Linked DNA regions of Homo sapiens. The protein of the gene in region 2 purifies or fractionates together with the protein of the main gene of each other region. This does not show direct contact. Each region holds a gene or a part of one and is shown on either strand. Other genes may lie near its edges.

Region 1 (3,500 bases), on a different chromosome or scaffold from region 2:
TAACGTTCCCAGTAGTCGTGTTTACAGTACGAATAGTACTGATATCAGGGAGGTAGTATACTGTTGGAGGTAAGGTGGCTCCGATCCTCGATCACCTACCAGCTATGTGATCTCAGGCAAGTGTGTGTGTATATACACACACACACACACACACACACACACACACACACACACACACACAAATAAATAAATAAATAAACTATATATATATATATATATATATATATATATTTTTTTTTTTTTTTTTTTTTTTTAAGACAGGGTCTTGTTCTTTTGCCCAGTCTGGAGTGCAGTGGCGTGATCATGGCTCAATGCATCCTCAACCTCCCAGGCTCAAGGAATCCTCCCATCTCAGCCTCCCAAGTAGCTGGGATCACAGGTGTGAGCCACCACACATGGCTAATTATTTATTTTTTGTAGAGATTGGAGTCTTGCTATGTTGCTCAGGCTGGTCTTGAACTCCTGGGCTCAAACGATTATCCTGCCTTGGCCTCCCAAAGTGTTGAGATTACAGGCATGAGCCACTGTGCTTCGAAAAAATATTTTTTAAAATAAACTTTTGCATTGATAGAACGTACAGATTGTAAGGATACAGTTCAGTGAGTTATCACAAACTAAATATAGCCATGTACCCACCACCCAGGTTAAGAAATAAAACAATCCATGCCAGGCGTGGTGGCTCACGCCTGTAATCCCAGCACTTTAGGAGGCCGAAGCGGGTGGATCACCTGAGGTCGGGAGTTCGAGACCAGCCTGACCAACATGGAGAATCCCATCTCTACTAAAAATACAAAAATCAGCCGGGTGTGGTGGTACATGCCTGTAATCCTGGCTACTTGGGAGGCTGAGGCAGGAGAATCGCTTGAGCCCCAGAGGCGGAGGTTGCGGTGAACTGAGATCGTGTCATTGCACTCCAGCCTGGGCAACAAGAGTGAAACTCCATCTCAAAAAAAAAAAAAAAAAAAAAAAAAGGCCGGGCATTGTGGCTCACACCTGTAATCCCAGCACTTTGGGAGGCCGAGGCAGGTGGATCACGAGGTCAGGAGTTCGAGACCAGCCTAACCAACATGGTGAAATCCCGTCTCTACTAAAAATACAAAAATTAGCCGGGCGTGGTGGTGTGCGCCTGTGATCTCAGCTACTTGGGAGGCTGAGGCAGGAGCATTGCTTGAACCTGGGAGGCGGAGGTTGTGGTGAGCTGAGATCGTGCCATTGCACTCCAGCCTGGGCAATAAGAGCAAAACTCCGTCTCAAAAAAAAAAAAAAAAAAAAGACAAGACAAGACATAAAACAATCCAGTACCCCAGAGGCCTCCCTCACATCCCTTTCCCAATTACTACCTCCCCAAAGGGTACTGTGAGCCTGACCTCCAACACTAAAAATTACTTTTGTAAGACAAATTCTGAAACTGTCTGCCTCAGTTTCCTTATCTGTAAAATGGTGGTAAGACACACTCCTGCCTCATAAGCTTGCTGTGCAATGAAATACCAGGCACTGGGCTAAATGTGCATGATCTCACCTAATTCTCCACGGATGTGGACTGAGAAGGCCCTGTCCACTTTAGAGAGGTTCAACATTCCATTCAAGTTGGCAAGGGGCAGAGCTGGGATTCGTGCCAGGTCTGCCTGAAGCCCACACTCTTAAGAGGCCTCTCACCCTGGTCTTATTGATCCTAATTTTCTGATAGACTGAAATGTAATATCCAGAATGCTGTCAGGAAGGAGGAGTCAAATTGCCTTAACGTAGGCAGACTGTTAAGTATCCCTGATAGCACCTGAGGTGCTTTGGACCTTCAGAGGTGTTTTCTGAATGATGTGCACGGGCGTCCGAATCTGTTCTGAGCTCACGCTGGTTTACATGCGTGTTAAGTCTGCTCTGGCTGCTGAAATGACTGAAATGGCCCAAGATGGGTAAAAAGGGGCAGATGCTGTAAAAAAAACACATGCTTCTGGTACTAACCCTGGGACAGGCTTAGGGAATCCTCCCACAGTGCCTCTGCAGCGGCCCCATACTTCTCTCTAAGCCACCCCCACACAGCTCTCGGGAGACAGAGGACAGATTTCTTTAAAGGAGGAGAACCCTGTACCTGGGTGACTATTGACGAACAGTGATGCTGGGAGCAGGGTGGCACAGCCTGGAGTCTCTGCGAGTCCCATGAGGCATAGCCTGGAAAAAGCTGTTAAGGACAGTTAGGCACAAGGCTCCCCTCTGGGAGGAGGCATGGACATTTACCCTTCAGAAAGTCATACGGCACACAACCTAGGCCAGAGTAACCCCCACCGTCCAGATTCAACATGCGTTTACACTGCCCACATTTACCTTCAGATGTTTTTTTTTTGTTTGTTTGTTTTTGAGACGGAGTTTCGCTCTTGTTGCCCAGGCTGGGGTGCAATGGCGCGATCTCGGCTTACCGCAACCTCTGCCTCCCAGGTTCAAGCGATTCTCCTGCCTCGGCTTCCTGAGTAGCTGGGATTACAGGCATGTGCCACCACGCCCGGGTAATTTTGTATTTTTAGTAGAGACGGGGTTTCTCCAAGTTGGTCAGACTCGTCTCGAACACCCGACCTCACGTGATCCGCCCGCCTCGGCCTCCCAAAGTGCTGGGATTATAGGGGTGAGCCATCGTGACTGGCCAGCTTCAGATGTTTTTTAAAGGGAAAAACAAATCAGATATAGTTAAAAGCTGGGTGTGGTGGCTCCTGCCTATGTAATCCCAGCACTTTGGGAAGCTGAGGCAGGAGGATCACTCGAGTCCAGGAGTTCGAGACCAGCCTGGGAAACACAGCAAAACCTTGTCTCTACAAAAAATACAAAAACTAGCTGGGCGTGGTGGTGTGTGCCTGTAGTACCAGCTCCTTGGGAGGCTGAGGTGGGAGGATTGCTTGAGCCTTGGAAGTCAAGGCTGCGGTGAGCTGTGATCATGTGACCGCACTCCAGCCTGGGTGACAGAGTAAGACCATGTCTCAAAAATAAAATACTATTAAAAAGCCCAAAAAGCCCTCTCTGATCCCTCCCTAGTCCAATTCTCCCTTCTCCTCTACTCAGAGAGAACTGCTCTTCTCAAATTGGTGTAAGTTCTTCTAAGCCATGCTGTATTTCCACTACATATATTTGTCAATAAATAACACAAAGCAGCTTTTGTTTAAAAAAAAACATACAGAAATGGCATTGCATGGAATATCTCACTACCAGCCCTTAAAATTTCTGCTTATCTGAATGGGTACCAGGTGATACCTCACTGTTATTTAAATTTGCATTTCCCTGACTACATGTGGGTGTCTCTGTTCACATGAGCATAGTCGTTGGAGTTCCCTCTCTGACCTGCCCCTTTATACCCTTGCCTACGTGTGTGTCTTTTGACTGACGCGGTTCCTCTCCTTTTCCCCTCATAGCCAAACTTTGTTCCAGAGGAGCCTGTATTTATTCTCATTCCCTTGCCTTTCCTCCACTGAAATCCAGGCCTGACCCTCACCTTCCCAGAGAAATGTTCTCATCAGTCT
Region 2 (3,500 bases):
CATTTGAATTTTGGACTGTTTGAAATACATATTTTTGAAGTTTTGCTTCATATTTGTTAGATTGATTGACTTAAGTTTTATAACCAGAAAGTACTATAGAATATACATGATTCATGAGATGTATATTTTTCTGAAGAGTTTACATTCATACTAATAGTTTTAGCATAATCAAATTAATATCTAGGCTTCCAATTTTTTTTAACAAAAGTTAATTATAAATATTGTTTTTCCAGTTGTCATTTTTATCTTGGGAGGATATCATTAATTATAGGTACTGTTTTTAACTATATAGTTTCAACATTGTAAGTATTTACATGGTCTTCAGATCAAATTGGGCTTTTTGCTCTTATTAGAAGCTGCTTTTTGAACTATGTCCTTAGTTAAACTTGTTTTTCCTCCATATGTCACTCTCTAGGTTTGTTTTTGCAGGGTTGTAGCTAGGCTACTAGGAAAAAAGTTGAAGCATTTGTTTTGGAAAATAAAACCATGTGAAGATTTGCATGGCTTGTAAAGAAATACAAAAGAAATATGCTGGTCAAAACTTAGGTACTACCAACCTTGAAAGAATTTTTTCCTGGTGGTCTAATATTGCACAGTAAGAGGATATATATGATGCTAGCTTTTACACCTTCCTCTGAAAAATCTTAATTGGCAGACAAGATGCCAAGTAACAGCAATTCTATTACCTACCCATAAGATTGGCTCTTCATAGTAAGAAATAGTAATCGAGTGACTTGATAAGTTACCTCTTTGCTACGTCAGATTGAATATCATCATTACTGATGAGCAGATAATGCAGTGTGTTTTTTAAATTACAAGTGGAATAATTTTTTAATATGAACTGCTTTTTCATTTGACCTATTGTAAGACTGTCATTATATGTGTTATTCCTCCTTTACAAGTTTAATATTTGCTCACATTCCCCTGTAAGTTTGCTATTAATTGGATGGATGGCTGTTAGCCTAGTGTTTTATGATATATCTTCATAATATTACAGATAATTTAAATTAGGAAGAGCAAGCTAGTATGCTGGCCATGTATATTTTAATAGTGTTTTGTTATTTTTGATACAAATATTGACAGTCATTAAATATAGACTTGAGTATTAATGGTCTGCCAGACATTAACTTAATTTTCTCAAATATACATTTATTCAGTTATAGCTTGTCTACAAAAATTTCTTAGAGTCTAAAATTGAAAATGCAATTGATTATTTTAACATTGGCATTTAATTTTTACAAATATAAGTGCCTGCCTGTATCAAAGTTTCTCACCTACTCCAGAAATATATACACGTACTGTGTACCCACAAAAATTAAAAATTAAAAAAAAGTAAAGTGCTTACAGATAATGTGTAAAAGCAGTCTATTTAAAAATTGGAGGCCAGGTGCGGTGGCTCACGCCTGTAATCTCAGCACTTTGGGAGGCCGAGGCAGACGGATTACCTGAGGTCAGGAGTTTGAGACCAGCCTGGCCAACATGGTGAAACCCCGTGTCTACCAAAAATAGAAAAATTAGCCTGGCATGGTGGCTCATGCCTGTAATCCCAGCTACTTGGGAGGCTGATGCAGGAGAACTGCTTGAGCCCGGGAGTCGGAGGTTGCAGTGAGCGGAGATCGTGCTACTGCACTCTAGTCTGGCCGACAGAGTGAGACTCTTTCTCAAAAAAATAAAATAAAATAAAATAAATAAATTAAAAATTGGATACTAATCATCTGTGATGTTTATGCACTTTATTTTCATGTAGTTCCTTTTCTTGGCATGTACATCTCAATGTGTTCCACCAATGTTTATTATTAGGATATTCCTATAGTATGAAAGGATAAGGTATAGTTTCCCACATTTTGTAGATGGAGATATTAAAGTGCAAAAAAAAAAAAAATTAAATGGCTTAGGGAACATTTCATTAATTGGACCAAAATGTTGTGTTCATGACGTGTTCAATAATATTTGGAAATTACTTATGGTTAAATTTATGCCCAAGTATCTCTTTGCCTAATGTGTTCCATATTTACTTGGTGGATTTTAATTTTTTGTTCTGTTTTGTTGTTGAAATTGGGGGACAGTTTGCTGGTCTTATCTGGGTTAAGAATTTGAAGTTTTGGTATGAAGATTTAGGTAAATATTTCAAATATTTTAAAATTTTGTTTTTGCTTACTGATGCCAATATTACAGCTATAGTCAAGGTTAACTTGATGTTTCCTTTATAAAACTTGATTTTTTTGGAAAGGGGGTGAAATATCTTGGACATTAAAAATTTATTGTACAAAACTATATGTTACTAGTTTTCTGGCACTGAAATATTCATTTCTATTTATATGTACCTACCTTTAGAATAGTCAGAAACTTAATTGTAGAGTTATGTTTACCATAGTACATTTTCAATCGCATTGTGAATTTATTCTATTTTTTTTTTCTTGGTGGGTAAAGCTCTTTCTTAAATTACACCATTTGAGGGAGTTTACATTTGTTAGTTAAATTGAATGAATACACTCATGTGTTCTCTAGTTAGTGTCCACCATATAGATCAATTCTTTTAAGAGAAAGCCTTAGGTATATAAGCACTGAGTTTGTAAATTGCTAAACGGAACTGAATAAACTGATTGCCCTTCTTATTCAAGGAAGGAAAATAAAAGTATATGGAGATTGGAAGACAAATATATCAATAAGTTATTCATGCATGTATTTCAAATTTAACTTTATAAACTGTATCGTGTGTGTGTGTGTGTGTGTGTGTGTGTGTGTGTGTGTGTGTAGACAGGGGTCTTGCTTTGTTGCCCATGCTTGTCTTGAATGCCTGGCTTCAAGGTATCCTCCCGCCTCAGCCTTCCAAAGTGCTGGGATACAAAAGTGAGCCACTGTGCCTCAGCCTTCCAAAGTGCTCGGATACAAAAGTGAGCCACTGAGCCTGGCAGTGTATCCATTTTAAAAAACAAAAAACCTGATTTTGATATTTTCTGATATTCTGTTACGTTTTTAAAGGACATGCAGACTTGTTGAAAGGAAGAGCAGAAAGTGGAGAAAGTTGAAAGACTTATCAAAGCTCAGCTAGGTTAGTGTTATGTCTTAGAATCCATGTTTTTAGAGCTTAAATTGCCCAAAGTAGAAATAAATTGAGTTCTTTCTAAGACAGATAGTTTTCACTGAGGTTACAAATTTTCCTGAGGATACAAAATGAGAACATTATAATTCCCAAAAATGTTTATATGCTTTTTTTTTGCAGTTAAATTTTCTACCTTAGCTGTTAACTAAAAATGTCCCTGAATAGAAGCACTCTTTCATAATCCTATCTCTGCTTTGTTGTGGATTCAGTATTTTCATAGTTGATCGTGTGAAATCTATAACGTCTTTGATAGACAAGTATATTGTGGCCGGGCGTGGTGGCTCACGCCCTGTAATCCCAACACTTTGGGAGGCCAAGGCAGGCGAATCACAAGGTCAGGAGACCAAGACCAGTCTGGCTAACACAGTGAAACCCTGTCTCTACTAAAAATACAAAA
Region 3 (3,500 bases), on a different chromosome or scaffold from region 2:
CTGGAAGGAACCCTGGAAGCCAGTTAGTTCCAGCTCATTATTCCTCATGGCCATAAGAGAAATCTTCATTATGTCTCGACAGGCGCGGCGGATGGGCACATCTGGAAACATCCAGAAAGCTTGCCTGTTCATAGCCGTAGGGCCGCTGCTGCTGGGCAGACGGCGCTGTCTGCGGTGCTCGGTAGCTTCCGTACTGCTGGCCTTGGCCTTGCTGGTAGCCGGGGTACTGTGACGGGGCTCCCTGGGCAGACCCTGAGAAGACACCAGGAACCGTGAGGCCGGCCAAAACGGACACCTCTTTCTTTTTTTTTCTTAACTTAAAAATTTTTTTTAAAACTTCCTCTTCTCCTTGAAAAATTCCCGTCTCAATGCATCAGCCTTTTGTCAATCTCCAGAACACCTGGCACCTGCACGTGGCTCCACGTTAACTCTGTACAGCGAGAGCACCACGTAACCGACTCACCAGCCCCTCCAGTCCTGTGAGGTCCCAGGACTGTGCCCCAGGCCCCCCACCAGCATGGCGAGGGCTGATGGGCTCTCTCCATCACCCCAGAACTGCTGCTACCTGAAGGCAGGACAGCCCTCCAGAACCCGCTGGCCCCAGTCACACTGGCTGCTGTAACTTGTCACTGAACTACCACGGGAGCTGCTGAAAACCTGCAGGCAGGTGAGACAGAGACATCGTCTCTAGGAAGGCTAAGTCAAAGGCTCCGGCAAGAACTGATAGAGGCCAATTTTTTTTTTTTTTTTTAGGCAGGGTGTCACTCTGTCACCCAAGCCAGGCTGGAGTGCAGTGGCGTGATCTTGGCTCACCGCAACCTCCACCTCCCAGGCTCAAGTGATTCTCCTGCCTCAGCCTCCCAAGTAGCTGGGACCACAGGAGTGTGCCACCATGCCTGGCTAATTTTTGTATTTTTTGTAGAGATGGTCTCACTATGTCATCCAGGCTGGTCTCGAACTCCTGGGCTCAAGCAATCCTCCTGCCTCAGCCTCCCAAAGTGCTGGGATTATAGACATGAGCCACCACACTGAGCCTCAAGTAATTTATTTTTTTATTTTTTGAGGAGTCGTCTCACTCTATCGCCTAGGCTGAAGTGTAGTGGTGTGATCTCGGCTCACTGCGACCTCTACCTCCTGGTTCAAGCAATTCTCCTGTCTCATCTCCTGAGTAGCTGGGACTATAGGCCCCCACCACCATGCCCAGCTAATTTTTGTATTTTTAGTAGAGACGAGGTTTCACCATATTGGTCAGGCTGGTCTTGAACCCCTGACCTCAGGTCATCCGCCCACCTCAGCCTCCCAAAGTGCTGGGATTATAGGCGTGAGCCACCACGCCTGGCCTCAAGTAATTTTTATACTATTTAATTAGTAATGGCTGTAAAGGGCTGAATAAGCACAGCAGAATCAGGCACGTGCCTCATAAGAAACCACGTGTGTGGAGCTCATCCTGAGAACTGAGATCTTGCTCCAACAAAAGACCTGGGGCAGCCCACACCTTATTTTTCAGAAGTTTCCTGGGTGATTGTAAGCTGCAGTGAAGGCTGAGACCCACAGGCTTTGACCTGCTCTGTCAAAGAGGTTGAAGCTGGGCCTGAGGCGTGCAGGTGATGGATACACGGGACACTGGCTCCCGTCACAGGCCACGTGGGCAATGAATTTATGTTTAAGTTAAAATAAGATGTTTCAGGTCTACGTGCATGGATGTTTCCAACTTTTCTGGAAACCTAAAGGTATTCAAAATAAGTTTATTACACATCTGCCTGAGCACCAGGGTCACCGGGCACGTACCCACATGTGGCAGGGGCAGGGGTGGGCGCTGGGGGGCCCCGAGGAGCGTGCTCGCCTCTTACCGTAGCCCTGCTGCTGCCCAGGGTAGCTCTGCTGGCTGGGGTACTGAGCACGTACCCATGTGTGGCAGGGGCAGGGGTGGGCGCTGGGGGGCCCCGAGGACCGTGCTCGCCTCTTACCGTAGCCCTGCTGCTGCCCGGGGTAGCTCTGCTGGCTGGGGTACTGCTGCTGGGAGTACGTCTGCTGCTGCGCGGCACCCTGCTGGTACCCGGCCTGCTGCTGGCTGTACTGGGAGTTTCCTGGAGGGAGGAGGAGACACAGAAATGACTTTCCCCACCTGGGCTAAGGGGGCTCATTCTGTGGCCCACTCACGACACGGTAACTTTGGAATCCCAAAACCAAATCCATTGCTTCGGCATGTTTATTTTTTCACAACCATTCAAATACTATACTACACCTTTATCTTATAGAAATACAAATGGAAAGCTAAGAAACGAAATGGTTAATATGACAACTAAGACAGAGATGAACGCCAGCGTCGCGGGTCAAATGTGCTCCCCAGAGAGATGCTGATGTCCTAACTCCAAGTACCTGTGAATGGAACCTTATTTGGACATAGGGTCTTTGCAGATATAATTTTTTTTTTTTTTTTCAGAGACAGGGCCTCGCTCTGGGACCCAGGCTGGAGTGCAGTGGTGCAATGAGGGCACACTGCAGCCTCCATCTCCCTGGCTCAAGTGTTCCTCTCACTTCAGCCTCCCAAGTAGCTAGGACTACAGTGTGTGCCAGCGTGCCCAGATAATTTTTTTTTTTTTTTGAGATGGAGTTTCGCTCTGTTGCCCAGGCTGGAGTGCAGTGGCGAGATCTCAGCTCAGTGCAAGCTCCGCCCCACCCGGGTTCACGCCATTCTCCTGCCTCAGCCTCCCGAGTAGCTGGGACTACAGGTGCCCGCCACAACGCCAGGCTAATTTTTTGTATTTTTAGTAGAGATGAAGTTTCACCATGTTAGCCAGGATGGTCTCGATCTCCTGACCTTGTGATCCGTTCACCTTGGCCTCCTAAAGTGCTAGGATTACAGGCGTGAGCCACGGTGCCCGACCATGCCCAGGTAATTTTAAATCTTTTGTAGAGACAGGGTCTCTCTATGTTGCCCAGGCTGGTCTCGAACTCTTGGCCTCAAGCAATCCTGCTGCCCCTGCCTTCCAAAGTGCTGGGATTACAGGCGTAAGCCACCATGCTCTGCGCAAAGAATCCATTTTCTACTTTACTTTTCTGGTTGGAAATAACTTTCCTTTTTTAGAAGCTGTAAAATTTAAGTATTTTAAAACTGCAATCTAGTATTTTTTTTAAATAACAGCTTTATTGAGATAATGCACACTGGAATGGCTTAAAAACCTATCAGGGTAATTCAATCTGTAGTTAGGTGGGATGACAAAACTAACACACGCTCTTATTCCAGGCTGAACTCCTCCTAAGGCGAGAGCTTCGGAAAAACTTACTTGAGCCTTTCCAGTTATTCTCTATCCAGGAAGTATCTTGAGTCTTGAACTTCCACGCCTTCCTCTAAATCCAGGGCCGGTTCCAGCAACAGCTGGCAAACGAGCTGTCACCGTCACGGGAGAAGACTTAAGGTCACTATCCTTTCTCCTGCCCCCATGAAAGCCATCTGAGACATGGGGGAGTGGGTTTTCAAGGGTGTCAGGCTTTTGGGG
Region 4 (2,661 bases), on a different chromosome or scaffold from region 2:
TTTCCTGTAACTATAGAAAGAATTATGTATATATACATGCAGAAATATATATGTGTGTGTGTATCTGTGGATGGATATATGTATATCTCTTCCTATATATATCCATAGTGGACTTATTCAGAACATAGATATGTATTCAGCTTGTCTTCAAATACGGCCAAGCAGAAAATGTTTTATATTTTATAAATCATCTTTTGACTCTGTATTTAAATTCTATGATACTGAAAATAAAGGCATTCTGGAAAAATACTGACTGATTTTGGTGCAGAAGTTTTGAGTATCAAGTAAAAGAAGTATAGTTTTGAAAGGGAATGGCGGAGGCCTGTTTCCCTTAAGAGGTGAAGGGTCATTTCATTCTTCCCATTAGTGAACATCAGCCTTTTCAGAATAGCTAGTTTTTGGGGTTGGATCAGAAAGAATATAATCACCAAATTTGTTACTCAAGAAAGGAAGAAATCTCTTAATAGTTAGTTATACTTATGAATGTTTAGGAAACAACATGAAAGCTGAAAATTTATTTCACTAATATACATAAGAAGTTCACAACAATGAACAGACAGAAAATAGCAGTATATACAGAATTTCACTACTTACAGTACATTACAATAGAGAAAGCATTTTATAAACAGTTCAGTATTGGATTAAAATCTTTTAAGGATGGCTAATTCTATTCAGCAGGAATCTAACTTCTAGACACCCAGCAAACCCATTCCTATCAGGGTGAGAGAGGGCTTTTGCTGTTGCTATAGTGTACTGTAAAAATATTTGTTCCTTATAAATGAAGTGGACCACAGCAACTTCTAAATGAACATTATATTCAGTGTAAGTCTCATATTATTAAATTTCAGATTTTTGACTTTTTAGATCGCAATTGTTTTTAAAAAGCAATTTAAATGTAACAGTGTTTACTTTGACCATAGATGAAGTTTTATAATAAAAGTAAAACTTTTTTTTTCTGTTTGCAAAAGTATGAAGCATTAAGAAGCATGGTGCTATATATCTCTTTATCTACATTTACCCTGGCCCCTCTAGTTCTGCATCTAAACAGAACCTGTAATGTAGAAGTTATGATTATTTGAACACTTTTTGTTTTCCTTCAGCATTATACAATATAATTTAATAAGATACAAATGCATATTTAATGTTTGTTAATGAAGAAAGTTGTGTGAGGGTGGGCATATATCTAGGAAAACACTACTGGTTACTGGCTTCTCATCAATAACTACAAAGTACCACATACCTTTGTTTCAGAAACCACCCATTCTACATTAAAATCTAATTCCTTTATCATCTATGGCTCTTTGTTATTATAGAATGTCTACATAGGTATTTATTTGCCTTTCTTCCTATCAATCAGATTTATTTATTTTAAAAGCCCTTGATAAGTAGTAAAATATTTAACTGCTTTTCTTAACCATACAAGTCAGAATTAGATTTTAAAATTCTATGAAAAATTTTAGGATAACAAATCTAACTAGAGACTTAATGATTTGTGTTAGGATTCTGTGAGCCATACTTCAGCTTATTATTGTTCTCAGCAATCCCCAGATTTGATTGTCTGTTCTACCAGAGTAAGCTTAACCAGTTTTATTATCTAAAATGCTTAATAAGTGCCCCCTCCCCGCCAAGTGATGATGGAATTGAGGATTTATTCTTTAAAAATACCTATAACTCCAAGTTTCTTTGACTAGCCTCCTTAAGTTCATACTACTACTTTCAGCGTACTTGGAAAAATCACAGGAAGAACTAATCTCTTAGAAAACATATAACAAGTGACTGTTAACACAGAGCCAGATATGTTTACAAGAATTCTAGGATGTGTGTGGCTGGGGCAGCGGAGACCCAAGCAGAGGCTGGGAGGTTGGACTAGCCCTTTCCAGTGCTGCTACTCTGTAAAATGTATGTCTCAATCAGACTCACAGGCCCCCATCCCAAATACTCAAGACATCTTAACCATTTATCTTGTAAGATTTCAAGTTTGATAGTTACTTAACAGTAATTACTAAATTTTAGCCAGTTAAATTCTTGTTTGGATGTGCTCTTTTAGCTCAAAAAACAGATTTGTTTTTCTTTTTATATCCCTGAAGGACATACTCCTCAACTTTGCATGATTACTATAGTTGGCTTCTTAAGGGGAAGTGAAGAAACAAACTTCTGTATCACAATGACTTACTATGAATAATAATTGTGATCCATGACAGATACCCATAATTACACTGTATGGCTACATTCTAAAAATATACCACAATAAATACTTGGTATTTGTAGAGCTCAAAGCACTCTTTTACAGAGTTTTGGTTAGTTTGGTTTTTTCTTTTTTTTTTTTTTTTCGAGACAGGGTCTTGCTATATTGCCCAGAATGGCCTCAAACTCCTGGGCTCAAGCGATCCTCCTCCAGCCTCCCGAGTAGCTATAGTTTGGTTTTAATCAGTAAATATTTATTTAGCACTTGGACTGCTCTAGGCACTATAGGGTACAAAATTAGTTGTATTTTATCCTCTCATCCCAGCTGTGAGGTAGGTTTGCTAAAGCTGTAATACCACTAAGCAGTTTTTTCAATACTGTTCCCAAGGACAGATAATATTAGCAAATCCCAGAAGCATTTCTAAACACTTGTAGGAAAAATAAAGTCGGACTTAAAATTTTTAGTATCTTTGCCTT
Region 5 (3,500 bases), on a different chromosome or scaffold from region 2:
GCGCACGTTCTAGGGAGAGAAATTCCGCAGTACAGCAAGAGCTTGCTAAGCTGTGAGCTCAGACTTCTCCCAGGGAGAACTCCCGCACCCAGGCCGGGCGCCAAGTGTCTGAGGTCAATGAGACACTATGCGTGCCAGGTGATGGAGGTTATAGTCCAGCTAACTGTCACAGCCACCCTGTGAGGCAGGCGCTGTGGACATCTGCCCGCCCAGCCTCACACGGTGGACGAGAGTTGGCATCCAGCCTCTGGAAAGGTGGCTCCGGGGAGCTTCACCTGCAGGTGTCCCTGGACACTGGGCCATCCTCTGCCTCCAGGCAGCAGAGGCCACCAGGCGCTCCCTCAAGGACCCCAAGGGTCTTTAGCAAGGGTCTCACAGCCTCAGACAGATATTCCCGCTCACTCCGTTCCCAAGGTTACCAGGCTGGGACACAGAGGACATAAGAGGCTGAGAGGGGCCACGCTGAAGTTGGCAGCCCCCTAAACAGGCAAGCACTTCAAAGGGAGAGTGCAGAGGGACAGGGTGGGCATGGCAAGGGAATGAAGGTAGCGGGGCCGGGCTGGGGGGTCAAGGGGCATCAACCCTTCCTCTGCAATCCTAGAAACAGCATTTTTGTCCCCAACCTCAAGAGTATACACAGAAGCAATAACAACACTAACAATAGTGACCGTTTACTCTGAGCCAGGCACTTGCAAAACATCTTTTCCACGCTAGACCTTATTTAACAATAAGGTCATCCAAATAAGTATTTATTATCTCTCCTGTACTTCCAGTTCTCTAACCTGGACTAAAGGAGGGAAATAGCTTGCCACCAAGTCACAGGGTTAGAAGGAGCAGAAACAGGACTTTAACCCACACAGCTGACCCAGTTGCCCATCACCTCCAGGGTCATCCTAGGGGTCCATCCCCTGCTGCCAGCCCCACTTCAACTCTTCCTTTATGAGGACGATTTCTGCACAGAGTAACAGAACCTGTACCCCACACTGCATGCACCCAGGTGTGACCCCCAAACCTGTGTAATCAGAAACAACCCACAGGGTTTGAGGCTTGGTGTGGCCAAGACAGGGAATTCACCACAGTCCCAAAAAGGGGATCACAGAAAAAGGACCACCTGATCAAAGCCCACTCCCTGCTGCCTCAGTTTCCCAACCTATGAAATGGGCCTAATGCCACTTTCTTCATAGAACAGGACAGACTCTGGAGGTGCTGAAACAAATTCTGGATCCCAGAAATAACACCACCATTAATAACAATAATAATACAATGGAAATGATATGATATCTGGAATTTGCTTTAAAATACCTTGGCAAAAAAGAAAAAATATATGTGCACAGTAGGTAATGGCCAAAAAAAAAAGATCAGATCAGCAGAAAATTTTTGCAGAAGCTGGTGATGGTTACACAGGGGTGGTTGTGCTATTTTCTCAACTCTCGGTGAGTGCTTTAAAATTTCCTTAACAAAAAGTTAAAAAGGCCAGGTGCATAGCTCATGCTTGTAATCCCAGCACTTTGGGGGGCCTAGGTGAGCAGATCACCTGAGTTCAGGAGTTCGAGACCAGCCTGGCCAACATGGTGAAACCCCTTCTCTACTAAAAATACAACAATTAGCCGTGTGTGGTGGCAGGCACCTGTAATTCCAGCTACTCGGGAGACTGAGGCACGAGAACTGCTGGAGCCTGGGAGGCGGAGGTTGCAGTGAGCCGATATGGCGCCACTACACTCCAGTCTGGGTGACACAGTGAGAGCCTGTCTCAAAAAAATAAAAAATATAAGTTAAAATAACAATAAATAAATCTGCCAAGCCGAGTCTAGATGGCAAAAAAAAAGAAAAAAGAAAACAAAATAATAATAAACAAAGACGGCCAGGTGCAGTTGCTCATGCCTATAATCCCAGGACTTTGGGAGGCCAAAGTCGGAGGACTGTTGAGCCCAGAAGTTGGAGACCAGCCTGAGCAATATAGCAAGACCTTGTCTCTATAAAATAAAATAAAATATTTAAAAATAATAGGCCTGGTATGGTGGCTCATGTTTGTAATCCCAGCACTTTGGGAAGCTGAGGCGGGTGGATTGCTTGAGTCCAGGAGTTCGAGACTAGCCTGGCCAACATGGCCAAACACCAGCTCTACAAAATATACAAAATTAGCTGGGTGTCGTGGCCCACATCTGTAGCCATAGCTACTCGGGAGGCTGAGACATAAGAATCACTTGAACCTGGGAGGCGGAGGTTGCAGTGAGCCAAGATCACACCACTGTACTCCAGCCTGGGCGCAGAGAGAGATTCTTGTCTCAAAAAAAAAAAATTAATAAAAATAAAAGATAATAAGAATCAAAGTGAAGCTTCACTGAGCATTCCTGAGAGCCAGGTCCTATCCTAAAAAGCTTCCCAAGTCTTCACTCATTGAAGCGTCACAACACCCAAAGCGGGGAAGCTCTGTTACAGAAGAGGAAATTGTGGCCCAGTGGGTATTTGGGCATTGTCTTCCTTTTTTTTTTTTTGAGACAGAGTCTTGCTCTGTCGCCCTGGCTGGAGTGCAATCGTGCGATCTCAGCTCACTGCAACCTCCGCCTCCCAGTTTCAAGCGATTCTCATGCCTCAGCCTCCTGAGTAGCTGGGATTACAAGCATGCGCCACCACGCCTGGCTAATTTTTTTGTATTTTTAGTAGAGACAGGGCTTCACCATGTTGGCCAGGCTGGTCTCGAACTCCTGACCTCAAGTGATCCGCCTGCCTTGGCCTCCCAAAGTGCTGGGATTACAGGCATGAGCCACCAATGCCAGCCCTGTGCCTTCCATTTAAAATGCCAACACTGATTGCCTAGGGTTTGGGGGAAAGGCCATAGCAACTTGGGTATCTAATCCTATGGGAGACTCTGCTACTTAATAATAATTATTCCAATCACAGCCACTCACATTTTTTGGGCGCTTGCTATACCCCAGGCACTGTGCTGAACACTAAGCATGCCTGAGGTGGGTTTCCTCTCATGCCCACTCTTCCAGTTGGGGAAACTGAGGCACGGTACAGGGAAGCCCTGTGTGCCTCATGCCGGAGCAGCCTGCTGCGTGCCCTCTGCTGCCATGCAGTTTAGAATGCCAACATTGTTCCTTGTGTGCCTTTCAGGAAGACAATGGGGACCTTTCAGAGCGGAGGAGTCAGCATGAGTCCCGCAGGAGAACAGTAATCATAGTGAAAACAACAGCAGCATCATTTGCTAGTTCCTGAAAGCGACTGCCTGCCCAGCTTGGCAGAACATTGCTTCGTTCAGCCTCACAGCAGACCCTACGAGGGAGGCATCATGGGCCCATTTTATAGACAAGGAAACTGAGGCCATGCAAAGGAATTGCTTGCCCAGGGTCACACTGCAATTAAGCAGAGAAGCCAGCATTCCATCCAACACCTGCCAATTAAGGGGGTCACAGTCCCCAGGAGAAATAAACTGCCTAAGAATGACAGGTGACACCGACACTGACTGACAAGGCTACCTTGGCACTTTATGGGTGTTT
Region 6 (3,500 bases), on a different chromosome or scaffold from region 2:
ACTAATAGTTTAAGTTAGATACTGGCATAGTAAATACTCTAATATCTTTCACTAAAGTCAGGGAAGTAACCAAACAATATTAAATTCTAAAAACAGAACTCCTCACAGGAGATTCTTTACAAAACAAAAGCCAAAAGGAGTAAAACACAAGGGTAGTCATTCACATTCTAGAGCAATTCAAGTTCTACAATCATTAAAATATACATTAAACACCTATGATAAAAGGGACACCAAAAAATTCTAGGTTTATTTCTAAGTTTAAATCATAATGATTTGTTAAATCACTTAGTTTTTCTTACCCAACAGCCTTCATCTTGATGAAAAGAGGGAAACATGAGAGAAGGGGAAGAGAGACAGCTTTGTAGCATTTTCTACGATGAATGCTGCAGCTCGATATACAAAGCATCTGCCCTCTCTAAGAAGCCACAGTGCTGGCATCCAGGACTTTACACAGCAGATAACAACTGTGGCTTAGAGAAGCCAGTCTCAAGTGGATTGCACAGTTGAGGGAGGGGTTAATGTGCAGCACTCTCCACAAGACCAATGGAGCACACTCCTATGTGTGTCTGGTTTAGACAATCAGTTCTACTTCAAATAACTGCAACATCATCAGAGTATCACTATTGACAAGAAAACTGAAATACTCATCCTAATAGCTCTCAGCATCTCAAATAAAAGGCTCACAGTACACTTACTTTTCTACTTGAAAAACAGCCAAAGATAAGACTTTCATGGTAGCAATAATATAGTATAGATTTTAATTATTGTATTTATAGGCCGGAATCCTAATAATTATGCTTTAAATTTCAGGTTAATGTAACCTAAACAATACTGTTCTATGAATTAAGGGCAAGCACTAGTGAATCTTATTAAGCAAAGCATCAGATACATTACTTCCTTGAATCTCGTACTTTTTATATATAAACTATGACCTTTAGCTTGAAGTACCCTAATATTTAGGCACATCTTGGTTTATTAATACTTTTTATAAAGAGGTTAACTTTTAATAAGCATGTTCACATTAATGTATGATGACTAGATACTGGTTGTTCCCATCTTTGAAATACCTGAAACATTTTTAGGTACTAAAAATGTTCACAGATTATGTAAAATATAAATTTTGCATATCCTACTTGAGTACTATTAAGTTCAGTTAATCCATATGATTTCTTGTATACTAAATCAATGATAGTGTTGAATAGCTGATTTCCAGCCTGTATTAAAACATCTATTTCAATATTCTCTCTTTTTAACCCATGATCAATCAAGCTTACTGTTGCAAAGATCTACTTAGCACTCAAGAGTTAACAGGACACTGTGCTTTGAGCGGCCACTTCCATTTAAAGCTCTTAGCAGACCAGTAGAACACACTCATTCATGTATACTGCTTCTGAAATTTCATCTTTGGAGCTCACTTGCTTTCAGTTATTAAGCATTAATTTATATAAAGAAATTACATAAGCTATATATGTAAAAACAAGTACAAAAATCACATAGCTGCAGCCTATTGCAGCCACCCTTGGAAGCCAACCCTTGCTGAATTAAGCTTAAAATTTGCTTGCTATAGGCTACAAAAAAAAAAAAGAATTTTTAAGTTAATTACATAAAAGCATTTCCTAATAAAATATGAAATACACTAACTTAATGTCGCTTTTTTTACTTGAAGAAAGGTAAATGAACATGTTAGAACGTGTTCTAGTTAGTTTGAGGGAAAGGTGACTTACTTCAGCCTGTTCTTGTGAATTATTTACCACAATCACAGTTCTGACATACAAGGTGTTTAACAATTTCACTTGGCAAAACTTTCTCATCAGCTTACTCTAAAATTTTCCTTCAATACACCTTCATAAGTGCAATAAAAGCATGTTCTAATACATTTCAGACCAAAAGAATCAAAAGGTAGTCTATTTTACTACCACCATCCCAAATATGAAACTGTACAGCTAATTCTTCCTTTTATGATATTCTTAAATCCCTATATGCAAATAAGGCTACTCATCTCTCACCTCACCTTTTCTTCAGAAGAAAAGGGAGGGGCAGACAGAGGGAGGAAAAGTTCAAAATATAATAATAGTTGCTGACAACCTACTCCTTTACTCTGAGGATAATCAGATCAACAAGTTAACAAGTATGTTTTAATTCTTGCCATAGAATCATATAGGCTCTTTACCAAGGTTATGCTAAAAATCACTACAATGTAAGTAACAGGTTTTATTATTTTCTATCCCAGAGTTAGCTAAATTTAGCATATGGATCAAATAATCCTTAGATTAAACCCAGATCTTTCTTAATGAAAGGCACTAAAAAAAATGCAACTTAGTCTAACAGTATATCCACTCATACTTTATAGCTCAGCAGCTTTAGCTACACTAAATGCTGGGGCATTTAAAATGCCAAATAATTATGATCTTTACTCCAAGGAAAGAAAATATAAACTTCTGCCTATGAAATAATGTTTTAAAAACCCATACTTGCCTGGTTATTCTTTCAAAGAAAAAAAAAGACTTATAAATTGTACATATACAGAAAACAGAAGGTAAACCATAGCCAAAAGTGACAGAAAAGCCACCAAGGAAATAAAGCAAAAAAGAAAGCAGCGGACAAAGGGCACACCATAGAAGAACAGCTAGTGAGGTACAGCAGGCAGAAGCTCCACAATCGTGAAAGTCAAGTTAAAATATTTCAGGGAGAGGCTGGTCAGTAAAGAAGCTGAGTCAGGGGCTTTTTTCTTCTACCTTGTACCCAGGAACTGACTTGGACAGTACAGAACGTTTGGGACCATCTTTTCTTGGAGTGGCAGCTTTGTCTTTTGATTTCTGTCTTCCCTGGAAAGAGTCCTCCTGGCTGTCAGGAGGGCTTTCCCCTTCAGATACATTGCCAGAGGAGCTGTCCTGGAGTTTAAAAGGCAAAAACAAAGATTCTTTGGAATTAAGACAAATTTGAGTCTGGATTTTGAAAACTATGGAAAATATTCAAAGAAAGTTTTAAAGCTTTATCATTTTAAAAATAAAAAGATCATTCTAAATGTAAGAAAGCTTTTTCCAGTGGAGACTAAAGTAAGTTATGTTAAAAATCATTCCTCCTTCTTCTAAGTATATTATATAAAACTGATTCCATATCAGTGCCTTCATCAACTTTGTTTTCTGACATAAGTCACAAAAACACAATTATCCGCTTCAGCTACTATTACGGCACACAGCTTCAACATCATTTTCCGTCACAAGGGAACATATTTGTTTCATACAAAAATATATTGTTACAAATAAGTGTGGGTATTTTCACTGAGTACTAAAAGTCATTAAGAAGGTCCTTCAGGAAAAATGAAGCGCTGCAGTTAGGAAAAAAAAAAAAAAGTCCTTCAAGTACACATTTGTGTTTTCACAATGTTAAACTATGCAGAGCCAATCCCTCAACTATCTACAACAGGATCTGAAATATTTTATATATTCAAGGTTTAAGACCTCAGTATCTGATCATTTAATTCTTCATTTTATAATTTA
Region 7 (3,500 bases), on a different chromosome or scaffold from region 2:
GAGAGGAAACATGGCTGCGAGCTGCATGAGGAGCAGTCACAGAGCAGAGTAGCACACTGCAGGAGGCTGGTGGGCAGACAGAGGAGGCAGAGAGGCATGCAGCTGCACCAGGGAAAGGAGAGGTGACCTGCAGACAGAGGGGCTGACCCGTCGCCAAATCTGCAAGTCACCTTTCCGCACAGTTCCCTTGCTGGCCTCCCTAACTATCCCATGTAACTGAGTTGGAAAAACATTGTTGATCAAGAGAGAAAGGCTTGCCCATCCTCAATGCAACTCCAAAATCACATCTGAACAGTTAATCCTGTTATGTGACTTGATGGGCAGATTTAGATCTGCAGTCCCAAAATGTGGGATTAGGACAAAGATACAGGTCACTGACTTCCAATTACAGCACCATCACAAGACATTGCTTCCTATGCTAAATGTTAAGACCCTTTTCTCTTTTGCAAGCCTAATACAAATGCAAAGAGAAGCACTGGGAATCTACAGTAAACTGCCTTGTTTATATGCCCAACATTAGATCTTTGTTTAAAAATGTTTCTGCGAAACAAACTGTGACAGACTTTTTATGTCAGGAATTCTGTGACCATTAGCATTTTCTATACAAGCATGATAATCTTTACCAAAAGATGGCTGCTTGGGAAAGAAACGCCACTATTAGCAGCTCATCCTATGAACACGAGGCGATGGTCAGGTTACCCAGGTGCACAGAAAGGTTCTGTTCTAGGTGGACACTCAGTGGTCTACCCTGAAAGGAGAGACTGGCCACAGCAGAGCCGCTGCTGAGACCTGAGAGCAGAGAGTCTCAGGAGGAGTGGTCAATGAGGGTCAGAGCGGGGACCCAGAAGAAAGGCCGTTCTGCTGGAGGAGGGGCTCATGAGGACAGTAGAGGAAGGAAGGCGCCAGACGATGGAGCGAAGGAAGTGCTGGCAGGCAGAAGCTCTGGGAAGGGGTGGGTATAATTACCGCCCTGGGACTTGCTAGTCCTGCTGCTGTCACTGCCTGAGAAGGCTCCGCAGTGTCCCGATGCTGCCGCCACACGGAAGGCACGGTAAGGGCCTGTTGCTACCGTTTCCCCATAGGGGCCTCCAAAGCCACAGACGCCTGTGGGACCCGGGGTAGAGAGAGAGGGGAGAAGTGTAAGGGACAGGACTCAGGGCCCTGCTGGGTATTCAGGCAGAGTGGCCCCTGCCTCCTCCAGCTGCCATGGAGGGGTCTCCTGGCCCCTCTTGTCACCTCACTGTCCTGTGCCCATGGTCCCTGGGGACCAGTATTGTAAGGCCACCCTCCCTGCAGTGGGTCATTCAACAGGGCACTAGCATGGGGCTCAGGAAGGGCCCTGGGAGATGAGTCCTGGAAGATGGCTCTCTCTGACCTGGGTGGGTTTATTTTCCCTTACACATGAGAAACAAATATATCTTAAAATGTGAGCAGAGTTTTCAGCTTGATTGACAGATTTTACGGTGCAGCTTTTGCATCTGCATCAGCAGGTCCCTCTCCCCTATCTCCAGGATTAAACTTGCTCCTCACGGACTTGAAGAACTGCTGCTGCAGGATCTCCAAGACCAACAGTGACAAGGTCAACACAGCAGATGGGCTTGCCTATAAGGGCTGCACTTTCTTTACAGGAATCTGGCATCTGTTACCCACAGGAATACGTCCCAATCAACTCACCTGCAAAGCCTCTGCCCCTGCCCTGAGAGGGTGGGACAGGCCCAAAGTGCCGGGGGTACGCAGAGGCAGGGTAGAAGGGCAGGGCAGGTGGCGGCGGGAAAGGGAGCGTGTGGCTCTGCCTGGAGAAGCTGAGCCCCTCGAGGACGCTCTGGCGCATCTTCTCTACCTTGGCAGCCTGATCAGCCTGGAAGACAAGGACCAGCATGTGAAAATGCCATCCACAGGGGGTTTTAATTGAATTTAAATGAGCACTAAAGAAATAAGATCTATCAACTATACAGTTGGTTCCCTTTATTCATGAATTCTATGTCTGCAAATTCTCCTACTTGCTAACGTTTATTTGTAACCACAAAAATCAATACTTATGGCAGTTTTCTGGTCGTCTGCAGACTTGTGCAGAACACGGCAAAGATTTTTGTTGCCTGATGCACTGACCCCAGCTGAGGTCAAACAAGACAACGCTTGCCTTCTTGTTTCAGCTCATACTGAAAACAAGAATCCTTTTCACAGTTTATTAAGTGCCACGTGTTTCACATTTTTGTCCTTTTTTGTTGGTAATTTCACTGTTTAAAATGGTCCCTGGCTGGGTGCAACAGCTCACGCCTGTAATCCCAGCACTTTGGGAGGCCAAGGTGGGTGGATTGCTTGAGGTCAGGAGTTCAAGACCAGCCTGACCAACATAGCAAAACACCGTCTCTACTAAAAATACAAAAATTAGCTGGGCATGGTGGCAGGCACCTGTAATTCCAGCTACTAGGGAGGCTAAAGCAGGAGAATCACTTGAACCTGGGAGGTGGAGGTTACAGTGAGCTGAGACCGCACCACTGCACTCCAGCCTGGGCGACAAGAGCGAAACTCCATCTCAAAAAAAAAAAAAAAAAAACCAAAACAAACAAACAAATAAAATGGTCTCCAAGTGTAGTGCTGAAGTGCTGTCTGGTGTTCCTAAATGCATAAGGAGGCTGTGATGTGCCTTACAGAGAATATACGTGTTACAGAAGCTACTGGCTGTGAGTTCAATAATAATGAATCAACAATCCATATTATATAAGGTGTCTTTAACGAAAATGCACATGAAATAAGATTATATACTGATTGGTTAACAAAAATATGTGACCAGAGCCTTGAAGGAACCCAGCACCTTGTATTGCCCCTAGGAGCAATGGTCAGTATTCACTAATTTGGCGTTCAAGGTGAATTTTAGAACATTACTACCACAAATAATGAGAAACAATGTTATATCAGGAGCTTGGCTCATCCTGGGTACTGAAGTGATATTTAGTGACACTCAGTACCAGGCCCAACCTAAAACAGAATCTTGAAACACAGGATGATAAATATGGTATAAAAGATGACAGATTTAACCAGTGAGCTTTATTTCATTGCAGTTAAAGGCAGCCACCCGGCCCCGCAGCATACCTGACCATCACAGAGGTCAATGAGTGGGGTCTTTTCCCGGCTGGCTTTGAGGAGTTTGGATTGGAAGAGCTTCCCATCAAAATACATCCAAGGACAACAGTGTTCCCAGGGGATTGGCTGTCCGCATGCATCATTTGCAAACAAGGCCATGTCTACTCCACTCATGAAGAGAGCTGATAGCTGAATTCCTCGGGGATCTAGGTTCTCAATCTTTAAATTGAAAAGAGTAATTTCTATGGAATAAGAGTACTACAGTATTAAATTCTTTCAAAGTCTTAGTAAAACTCTCCAAAGTTAACAGAATATTCCTCAACAAAACAGCACCACTAAGTAGTCCTACCATTACCTTATATTGACCTAACACTGGCCTCATTTGAACAGAAATACTTATGTGATTTAACACATTT

The links.
Region 1: the proteins of ARID2 (region 2) and DCAF4 purify together in Homo sapiens (co-immunoprecipitation; one large-scale study listed by IntAct). This does not show direct contact.
Region 3: the proteins of ARID2 (region 2) and SS18L1 purify together in Homo sapiens (affinity purification with mass spectrometry, with the first as the bait; one large-scale study listed by BioGRID). This does not show direct contact.
Region 4: the proteins of ARID2 (region 2) and RAB3GAP2 fractionate together in Homo sapiens (co-fractionation; one large-scale study listed by BioGRID). This does not show direct contact.
Region 5: the proteins of ARID2 (region 2) and BICRA purify together in Homo sapiens (affinity purification with mass spectrometry, with the first as the bait; one large-scale study listed by BioGRID). This does not show direct contact.
Region 6: the proteins of ARID2 (region 2) and PHF10 purify together in Homo sapiens (affinity purification with mass spectrometry; one large-scale study listed by BioGRID and IntAct). This does not show direct contact.
Region 7: the proteins of ARID2 (region 2) and FAM120A fractionate together in Homo sapiens (co-fractionation; one large-scale study listed by BioGRID). This does not show direct contact.

Annotation. Positions count from the first base shown.
Region 1 is NC_000014.9:72,950,464-72,953,963, reverse strand, and holds part of DCAF4 (DDB1- and CUL4-associated factor 4), read right to left. Parts: intron 2,167-3,500; coding exon 2,087-2,166; intron 1-2,086. UniProt on the Homo sapiens protein: May function as a substrate receptor for CUL4-DDB1 E3 ubiquitin-protein ligase complex.
Region 2 is NC_000012.12:45,732,706-45,736,205, forward strand, and holds part of ARID2 (AT-rich interactive domain-containing protein 2), read left to right. Parts: intron 1-3,500. UniProt on the Homo sapiens protein: Involved in transcriptional activation and repression of select genes by chromatin remodeling (alteration of DNA-nucleosome topology). Required for the stability of the SWI/SNF chromatin remodeling complex SWI/SNF-B (PBAF).
Region 3 is NC_000020.11:62,171,269-62,174,768, reverse strand, and holds part of SS18L1 (calcium-responsive transactivator), read right to left. Parts: intron 2,088-3,500; coding exon 1,968-2,087; intron 253-1,967; coding exon 125-252; coding exon of another isoform or gene 38-124; exon of another isoform or gene 1-37. UniProt on the Homo sapiens protein: Transcriptional activator which is required for calcium-dependent dendritic growth and branching in cortical neurons. Recruits CREB-binding protein (CREBBP) to nuclear bodies.
Region 4 is NC_000001.11:220,147,793-220,150,453, forward strand, and holds the end of RAB3GAP2 (rab3 GTPase-activating protein non-catalytic subunit), read right to left. Parts: 3' UTR 501-2,661; downstream 1-500. UniProt on the Homo sapiens protein: Regulatory subunit of the Rab3 GTPase-activating (Rab3GAP) complex composed of RAB3GAP1 and RAB3GAP2, which has GTPase-activating protein (GAP) activity towards various Rab3 subfamily members (RAB3A, RAB3B, RAB3C and RAB3D), RAB5A and RAB43, and guanine nucleotide exchange factor (GEF) activity towards RAB18.
Region 5 is NC_000019.10:47,615,634-47,619,133, reverse strand, and holds part of BICRA (BRD4-interacting chromatin-remodeling complex-associated protein), read right to left. Parts: intron 1-3,500. UniProt on the Homo sapiens protein: Component of SWI/SNF chromatin remodeling subcomplex GBAF that carries out key enzymatic activities, changing chromatin structure by altering DNA-histone contacts within a nucleosome in an ATP-dependent manner.
Region 6 is NC_000006.12:169,707,501-169,711,000, forward strand, and holds part of PHF10 (PHD finger protein 10), read right to left. Parts: intron 2,892-3,500; coding exon 2,736-2,891; intron 1-2,735. UniProt on the Homo sapiens protein: Involved in transcription activity regulation by chromatin remodeling. Belongs to the neural progenitors-specific chromatin remodeling complex (npBAF complex) and is required for the proliferation of neural progenitors.
Region 7 is NC_000009.12:93,556,185-93,559,684, reverse strand, and holds part of FAM120A (constitutive coactivator of PPAR-gamma-like protein 1), read right to left. Parts: exon of another isoform or gene 3,327-3,500; intron 3,304-3,326; coding exon 3,094-3,303; intron 1,859-3,093; coding exon 1,675-1,858; intron 1,105-1,674; coding exon 967-1,104; intron 1-966. UniProt on the Homo sapiens protein: Component of the oxidative stress-induced survival signaling. May regulate the activation of SRC family protein kinases. May act as a scaffolding protein enabling SRC family protein kinases to phosphorylate and activate PI3-kinase.